Linked DNA regions of Homo sapiens. The protein of the gene in region 1 purifies or fractionates together with the protein of each later gene. This does not show direct contact. Each region holds a gene or a part of one and is shown on either strand. Other genes may lie near its edges.

Evidence for each region.
Region 2: the proteins of CABS1 (region 1) and PLBD1 purify together in Homo sapiens (affinity purification with mass spectrometry; one large-scale study listed by BioGRID and IntAct). This does not show direct contact.

The regions. Positions count from the first base shown.
Region 1 is NC_000004.12:70,333,422-70,337,702, reverse strand, and holds CABS1 (calcium-binding and spermatid-specific protein 1), read right to left. Parts: upstream 2,723-4,281; 5' UTR 2,664-2,722; coding exon 1,476-2,663; 3' UTR 1,357-1,475; intron 738-1,356; 3' UTR 587-737; downstream 1-586.
Region 2 is NC_000012.12:14,505,830-14,509,024, reverse strand, and holds part of PLBD1 (phospholipase B-like 1 precursor), read left to right. Parts: intron 1-1,906; coding exon 1,907-2,092; intron 2,093-2,756; coding exon 2,757-2,863; intron 2,864-3,195. UniProt on the Homo sapiens protein: In view of the small size of the putative binding pocket, it has been proposed that it may act as an amidase or a peptidase.

The DNA.
Region 1 (4,281 bases):
AAACCTATCAATCTTCTTATCACCTTTTCATATATGCTTACATTTCTCAGGTCCATTTGGATAGATATACAGGTACATTTCCTCCTAAGTTTTTGTATGGTTTTAGTTTTTACATTAAAGTATTTAATCCATGTAGAATTTATTTTAAAGTATGGTCTTAAAAAGAATTTAAAAATTTGTTTATTATTCCAACATATTTTTTTCCCAAATACTGATTGTTCAAGTAAGATTAACTATTATATCCCATGTTTTTGAAGTCCACTTCACTGTATAACAAATTTTTGTTTCGTAATTTGTTTCTGGGTTTTAACACACTGTTGTGATTATTCTAGTCTATAGTTTATCTAATGGTGCAAATCCCTATACAAACCCCCCGTACATAATATCTTTCATTCACTTGGTGTTTTGGCATTGTTCTTATTTCTTTTTTTAGTGTAATACAATTATGAATCTCTATAGAATAATTTTACTTCTGGGGATTAGAGCTATATTATTCTTTAAACAAACAATGAATTTTCATTTCTCTTTATTTCTCCTAATTTGAGAAGTCTGTAGTAGAATATCAAACACACCTACACACAGTAAATCAGTTGCTTGCCAAAAAGATTTATTGAAGAAAAATGAGCAAAGTGAAAACAGACCCATTTAAGTAGTCTGTGCCAGAAAAGAATGAAGATTTATGTCCTTGAATCGCTAACAAGAGTCATAAGAAGAGTGTGATATTCAGTGTTTAAGACCTGGAAAACATGGACAAAAATTCAGAAAACACATTTTAACAGAAAGAAAATTAAATTGATGTATATGTTTACAGAACATTTTTCTGACAAATATGCATATTTGTAAAATATCATTTTGCTTTAGTTTGTATCTAACATGTGCCAAGAACCCTATCATAAATCTTATGTATCTTACATGTGGGTGCTAAACAATTACTGAATTGTCTTAATTCTTATATGAGGATTAAAAATTTTTTAAATAGAAGAGAATCACTGATGAAATACTAATGAAAAAATTGCTTAGAACAAGCATTTTGGGAGAACTTTTTAGGCTATGGTAATGTTTTGGAGAGGTTAATTTGCTTCTCTTCATATCCTTAATTCTCACTTAAGTATAATATTGACTGTTAACTAAATGATATGCATCATTAAATGTTGTAGAAATGAGCCCCTACATTGCTCTGTCTTCATACTCCCTGAAGGCTAGGACGAAAAATTTTACATTAAGTAATTGTTAGAATATTGAAACTTTGTGATACTAGGGGGACCCTTACACTGCGGTTTTTTTTTCTAAGTTTCCGTAAATCTGTTACATGACCTGTAGTCCTAAGCATCTGCATTTATTGAGTCGAATACTTGCCTTAAATGCCCACATTCTTTCATTTCTAAAGGTTTTTGCTTGTTGGAAAAATTTCTTAGATGTTAAGGCTAGCTGGCTAGACTATTGCACAATTCTACATGGTATCCCTTTTGTTGCTTTTAAATCATGAACTCATCGGGTTCTTCTTTCAGTAGTTCAAAGATATCCGTTTCAGTTGTGGAGGTGTCTTCCTTATAGTCTGGGGTATCTAATACAGAGGTAGTTCCAGAAAATGGCTCAGTGATCTTAGGTACAGTCTCTGTATTATCAGTTTCAGACAAATCTTCTTCTGTAGATGATTCTTCCACTAGGTTTGTAGCTATTGATGCAGGGACAACGAAGTCATATCTGGATTCAACAGCAGTAAGCAAAACAGAATGGGTCTCTGCTTCATTTGCAGTATCTCTCTCCATCCAAATACTGGCTCCCTCGGTAGTTTCTTCATCAGTTAGCAGAGTATCTTCCCGTTTATCTTTGTCTTTTTCAGCAGAGGTAGTGAGTTCAAACACAGTGATAAACTTCTCATCAGAGTCAGTTAATGTAGCCACAGCACTGGTGTCATCTTCTAAAACACTTAGGTCAATTTCGGTTATTTTCTCTTCTTCAAGGGCAGTTATGTCTGGAATAGTAGTGAAGCTTTCTTCAGGAGCAGGAGGGATTTCAGCCTCAGGAATAGTGGAATCAGTGACCTGGACAGCCTCATCAGCAGGGACATTGGATTTGATGGAGGAATTATAATTGCTCATATCAGCTTCATCCTTTTTACGTGGAAAGGCAGGAGCGTCAGCAACACCAGCACTGCTGTCCTTTAGTGTGCCAGAGACTTCAGAGGTTATTGAGATCTCTGCATCTCCTGTGTCAATGGTAGCTAAGAGGATATCTTCTTTTGCTATGTCAGTGGAAAAATCTATTAAAGAAACAGTAGTAACTGGTGATGAAATATTCCCAATTTTCACTGGCATGAAATGTTCGGTAATAGAGTCTCTTGTTATGGAGTTTGTAGTGCCAGTCAGAGAGGTAATTTCTTTCTGTAGGTGAGTTGTTGACTTAATAAAGTCGGTCCCCATATCATCTTCTGATTTGAGTTTTTCCTTTTTAGCTGTCAGTTTGTTGTCTGTAGTTGTTGAAAAATCGCTTTCTAGCATATATTCATTTACTGAAGTGACGTGGTCTCCTTCTGAAGTAATAGTTGTTTCTGATTTGGGAATAGCATTGTCAGCCCCAAAGAAAATGGTTGCTGCAGTTGGTGTTTTACTGCTTTCTGTTGGAGGATGAGAATAAATTTTGGGCAAACCATCTTCAGCCATGGGGCGAAGTGGCACTGTGCACTCTCACAGGTCTTGCTTCTGGACTCAGTGGTATCTCTAGGCAGGAGAGCAGTGTTCATCAGAGTGATTAAAGCTTGGGTCATCATGGTGATTGTTGCATCAACTATGGGAGCAATGTCACTGGGTCTCCTTGGAGGTTGTTTCTAGGCTGCGATTGGTTATCTAATTGCAGGAATATTGAATGAAAAGACTATAGAGTCCGCTCTGATTATGAAATCAAATTCACAGCCAAGCATTTCAATTGCAGGGAACTTAAGATTTACCATGTTTCTGTTTATAAGGAAAATGTCTCCTGATATAGAGCTAGGGTTACTTGAAACAGACATAGCAGAGACTGCCAGGCACCTTTTGGGTTTAGAATTAGTAAGGAAAACTTTGGAAGCCACAAGTTTATCAGCATCAGCTTAAAGTCGTCTATCTTCCAAGCAAGTAACAGAGTATTTTTGAGGTGAAGCCATTTTCCCTTAAGATTCATAGTATTAAAAAAAATTGGTATCTAAAAAAATTAATGGTGTTTTTGTCAGTAAGTATAGCTACAGAAGGTAATTAGGTAGCAGGGAATTCAGTTAGTTCCCTTATTCATAACAGGAAGTCCCACTTTTTCAGTAGAGATAATAACTAATAGTTATTGGCCTGTTTGGGTCTTTTTTTTTTTTTTTTCTTTTTTTGTTTTTTGTTTTTTTTTTTTTCATTTATTTTTATTTTATTTTATTTTATTTTTTTTATTATACTCTAAGTTTTAGGGTACATGTGCACATTGTGCAGGTTAGTTACATATGTATACATGTGCCATGCTGGTGCGCTGCACCCACTAATGTGTCATCTAGCATTAGGTATATCTCCCAATACTATCCCTCCCCCCTCCCCCAACCCCACCACAGTCCCCAGAGTGTGATATTCCCCTTCCTGTGTCCATGTGATCTCATTGTTCAATTCCCATCTATGAGTGAGAATATGCGGTGTTTGGTTTTTTGTTCTTGCGATAGTTTACTGAGAATGATGGTTTCCAATTTCATCCATGTCCCTACAAAGGATATGAACTCATCATTTTTTATGGCTGCATAGTATTCCATGGTGTATATGTGCCACATTTTCTTAATCCAGTCTATCATTGTTGGACATTTGGGTTGGTTCCAAGTCTTTGCTATTGTGAATAGTGCCGCAATAAACATACGTGTGCATGTGTCTTTATAGCAGCATGATTTATACTCATTTGGGTATATACCCAGTAATGGGATGGCTGGGTCAAATGGTATTTCTAGTTCTAGATCCCTGAGGAATCGCCACACTGACTTCCACAATGGTTGAACTAGTTTACAGTCCCACCAACAGTGTAAAAGTGTTCCTATTTCTCCACATCCTCTCCAGCACCTGTTGTTTCCTGACTTTTTAATGATTGCCATTCTAACTGGTGTGAGATGATATCTCATAGTGGTTTTGATTTGCATTTCTCTGATGGCCAGTGATGATGAGCATTTCTTCATGTGTTTTTTGGCTGCATAAATGTCTTCTTTTGAGAAGTGTCTGTTCATGTCCTTCGCCCACTTTTTGATGGGGTTGTTTGTTTTTTTCTTGTAAATTTGTTTGAGTTCATTGT
Region 2 (3,195 bases), on another chromosome or scaffold:
GCCATTAAAAAGGCGGGGGCGTCGGGGTCGGGGGTGGGCACATCTCCTAACGTATTTAAGCAACTGTGGTATGGTGATAGAAGCCCTGGATGTTTTAGTTAGAAGGCCTGTATTCTGTCAAGTTTTGTGAGCCAAGGAAGACAATTGACCTCTCTGAAACTCTGTTTCTTCTGTTTAAAAAAGGGATGGTAATACTTATACATCATCAGGTTTTTGTGAGATTAAACAAGCTGCTCTATTTTCTTTATTTATTTTGAGACAGGGTCTCGCTTTGTCACCCAGGCTAGATTGCAGCTGCGTGATCTCGGCTCACTACAACCTTTGCCTCTCGGGTTCAAGCGGTTCTCGGGCCTCAGCCTCCCGAGTAGCTGGGACCACAGGTGTGCACCCCAATGCCTGGCTATTTTTTTATATTTTTAGTGGAGGCAGGGTCTTGCCATATTGCCCAGCCTGGTCTTGAACTTCAGAGCTCAAGCAATCCACCTGCCTCAGCCTCCCAAAGTGCTGGGATTACAGGCACAAGCCACTGCACCAGGCCAAGTTGCTCTGTTTTAAATCACGAAGCTTCATGAAATGTGAAGTATAAAGTAGACATTTTCGTTATTCATTTGAGCTGTTTTCACAAAGAGAAATATAATAATCTAATGTTTACCAAGTATTAGATACTATTGTAAGCACTCCATCTGAATGCATTTCATGCTCATGCTTATGAAGATGCTTAATGCTGAATAGTTAATGAAGATGAAGAAACTGAGGCACAAAGGGGATAAGCAATTTGTTCAAGGTCACATACCTAATAATGGCAGAACCAGGCTTCAAATCCAGGCAATCTAATTCCTGAGCCTATATAACCTAGATATGTTTTAGCAACAAATCTGTTTTTCTTCTTTAATTTCAATGTCATCCATATCTCAGTTCTTCTGATGCTGGCTCTGTCTCAGAATTAGCAAGGCTGAATGTCTTATCATTTTCTTTTTGTCTCAGTAACCTCACCCCTAAAGAGGAGGTCCTGTACAACAATACAAAGGAGAAAGGCAGAAAAGGGCCAGGAGAGAATGTGGAGGTGGGAGAGAACCCTGCATGGTGGAGACATTCCTTGACTGTTCTGTAGGCAGTAACCCAGGCCAGTGTCATCCAGGATGTTTCTGAAATTCTGCTTTTACAAGAGAGAGCTGTGTCACATATTTGGTGCTCAGTGACTAGTAGGCTATGTGGCCTTCACACACTATGAAGCTTTGAATGAAGCTGAGCCTTTATAAATGTTTAGAGTCAAAGGAATTAAAAGCCTAATGTAACCTAAAAGATCATCCCCAATCCCCTTACATTATGGACTTCTCCTCTCCCTCCCCATTGACGTCTTTCAAAAAAAAAGAAACAGAAACAAAACAAATGAAGTTGCCTGCCTAAGACCTGATTCTTAAGCCCTGAGCCTAGAATTCAGGCTTTCTATTCCCAGTGCTATGTTCTTCCACTACTTCATGATTACCATTTGACATCTTCCTTTATAGGGCCACACTGTGAACAACCATTTCTTGGCATTTCAGTAACTAAATCCACTTAGATGAGCTCCCCAGACCACCTTGCATTATACTTTATTTTGCTCTATAGAGAATATGGTTGTTTTTTGGCTTAGAGATTAAGAATTTTGGGTGAAAACCAGAGAATTCTGATGCTCTTCTTCCCCTAATGAAATAACCTAGAGCTGTGCTGATTTAGGAAATTTAAAAGGCTGTTTGGCTGCCAGGGTTCACATGCAAAGCTTTATTTTCTGTACATTATTTTGTAATTAAATGCCTGTGCCCATTTTCAAAATAAATGAACATGGATAACATTTCTTTTGCTCTCTCTCCTTTTCTGTCTCCTTCCCTGTCAATCCCTCCCTTACTTCCCTTCCATTCCAAATCAGGATATTGGCCCTCCTACAATGTTCCTTTCCATGAAAAAATCTACAACTGGAGTGGCTATCCACTGTTAGTTCAGAAGCTGGGCTTGGACTACTCTTATGATTTAGCTCCACGAGCCAAAATTTTCCGGCGTGACCAAGGGAAAGTGACTGATACGGCATCCATGAAATATATCATGCGATACAACAGTACGTAGCATATTTCTCAAGAATCATTCTTCAAAACTCCTTTTCTTCCCTATGGATACAGAATCCATGTAAGTTTATCATCTCTGTACTAGAAGGAATTATAAGAAGTTATTTAAGTATTTAACTAATATTGTACATTTTATACTCAATAAATAGAGCTTTGGCCTCCTTTATAAAATGAAAGAGAAGAGTCTATACATTTTTTAATTGAAAAAAAAAAAATCATCTGTAAAACACAGAAGAAATAACTCATAGAGGGTCCTTTAAAATTTTTCTCCAAACACAAGTTTCCTTCCAAGGATAACAGCAGCTAATAAAACAAAACATTGTTCATAAATACCTCATTTTTTTTGTATGAACAGCATCAAAGTCAAATTTGTATTTATTTTGTTGGAAACAGCTGATGGACGTTTATCTGGTTCTCTTTCCCATCCATTTTTCACTGTGTAAGGTTCTTGAGGGCAGGCTGGGCCTGGGGCCAAGGACTTACTCCTTCCTCACAAGCCAAGGGAGATGTCTCTATCTGGAAGCAGACTGGGCTGAGGAGGCCTGTGGGAGTACACTCTCTGATTATCTAGGCTTTAACAGGCCTCAAAACCTTACTGTGGAGAAGTGTGTCTCCAAATAGCCAATAATCACTCTCTTCCCCATTTCTGTTTCCTAGATTATAAGAAGGATCCTTACAGTAGAGGTGACCCCTGTAATACCATCTGCTGCCGTGAGGACCTGAACTCACCTAACCCAAGTCCTGGAGGTTGTTATGACACAAAGGTAACATGCTATTGGCTTTTGAATTTAATTCCCACCAGCACACAGGCCTCTCCAAAGGCAAAGTTGCACAGGTTTTTATGGCAGGAAGCGATGTCGCTAACCATAAACTCAACCCAGGAATCAGCTTTTTCAGAGATTCTGGTGGTAGGTCCTATTATCTAACTTCAAGTCCCTGCTCTGCCATTTAGTAGTAAATCACATAATTCCGTCATGTTTCTGTTTCCTCATCTGTAAAATGGATATAACAGTACTTACCTCATATGTTGTTCTGAAGAATAAGGCTTTAATCTCTGTAAAATGTTTACAACAGCACTTAGTGAGTTATTTGTAAA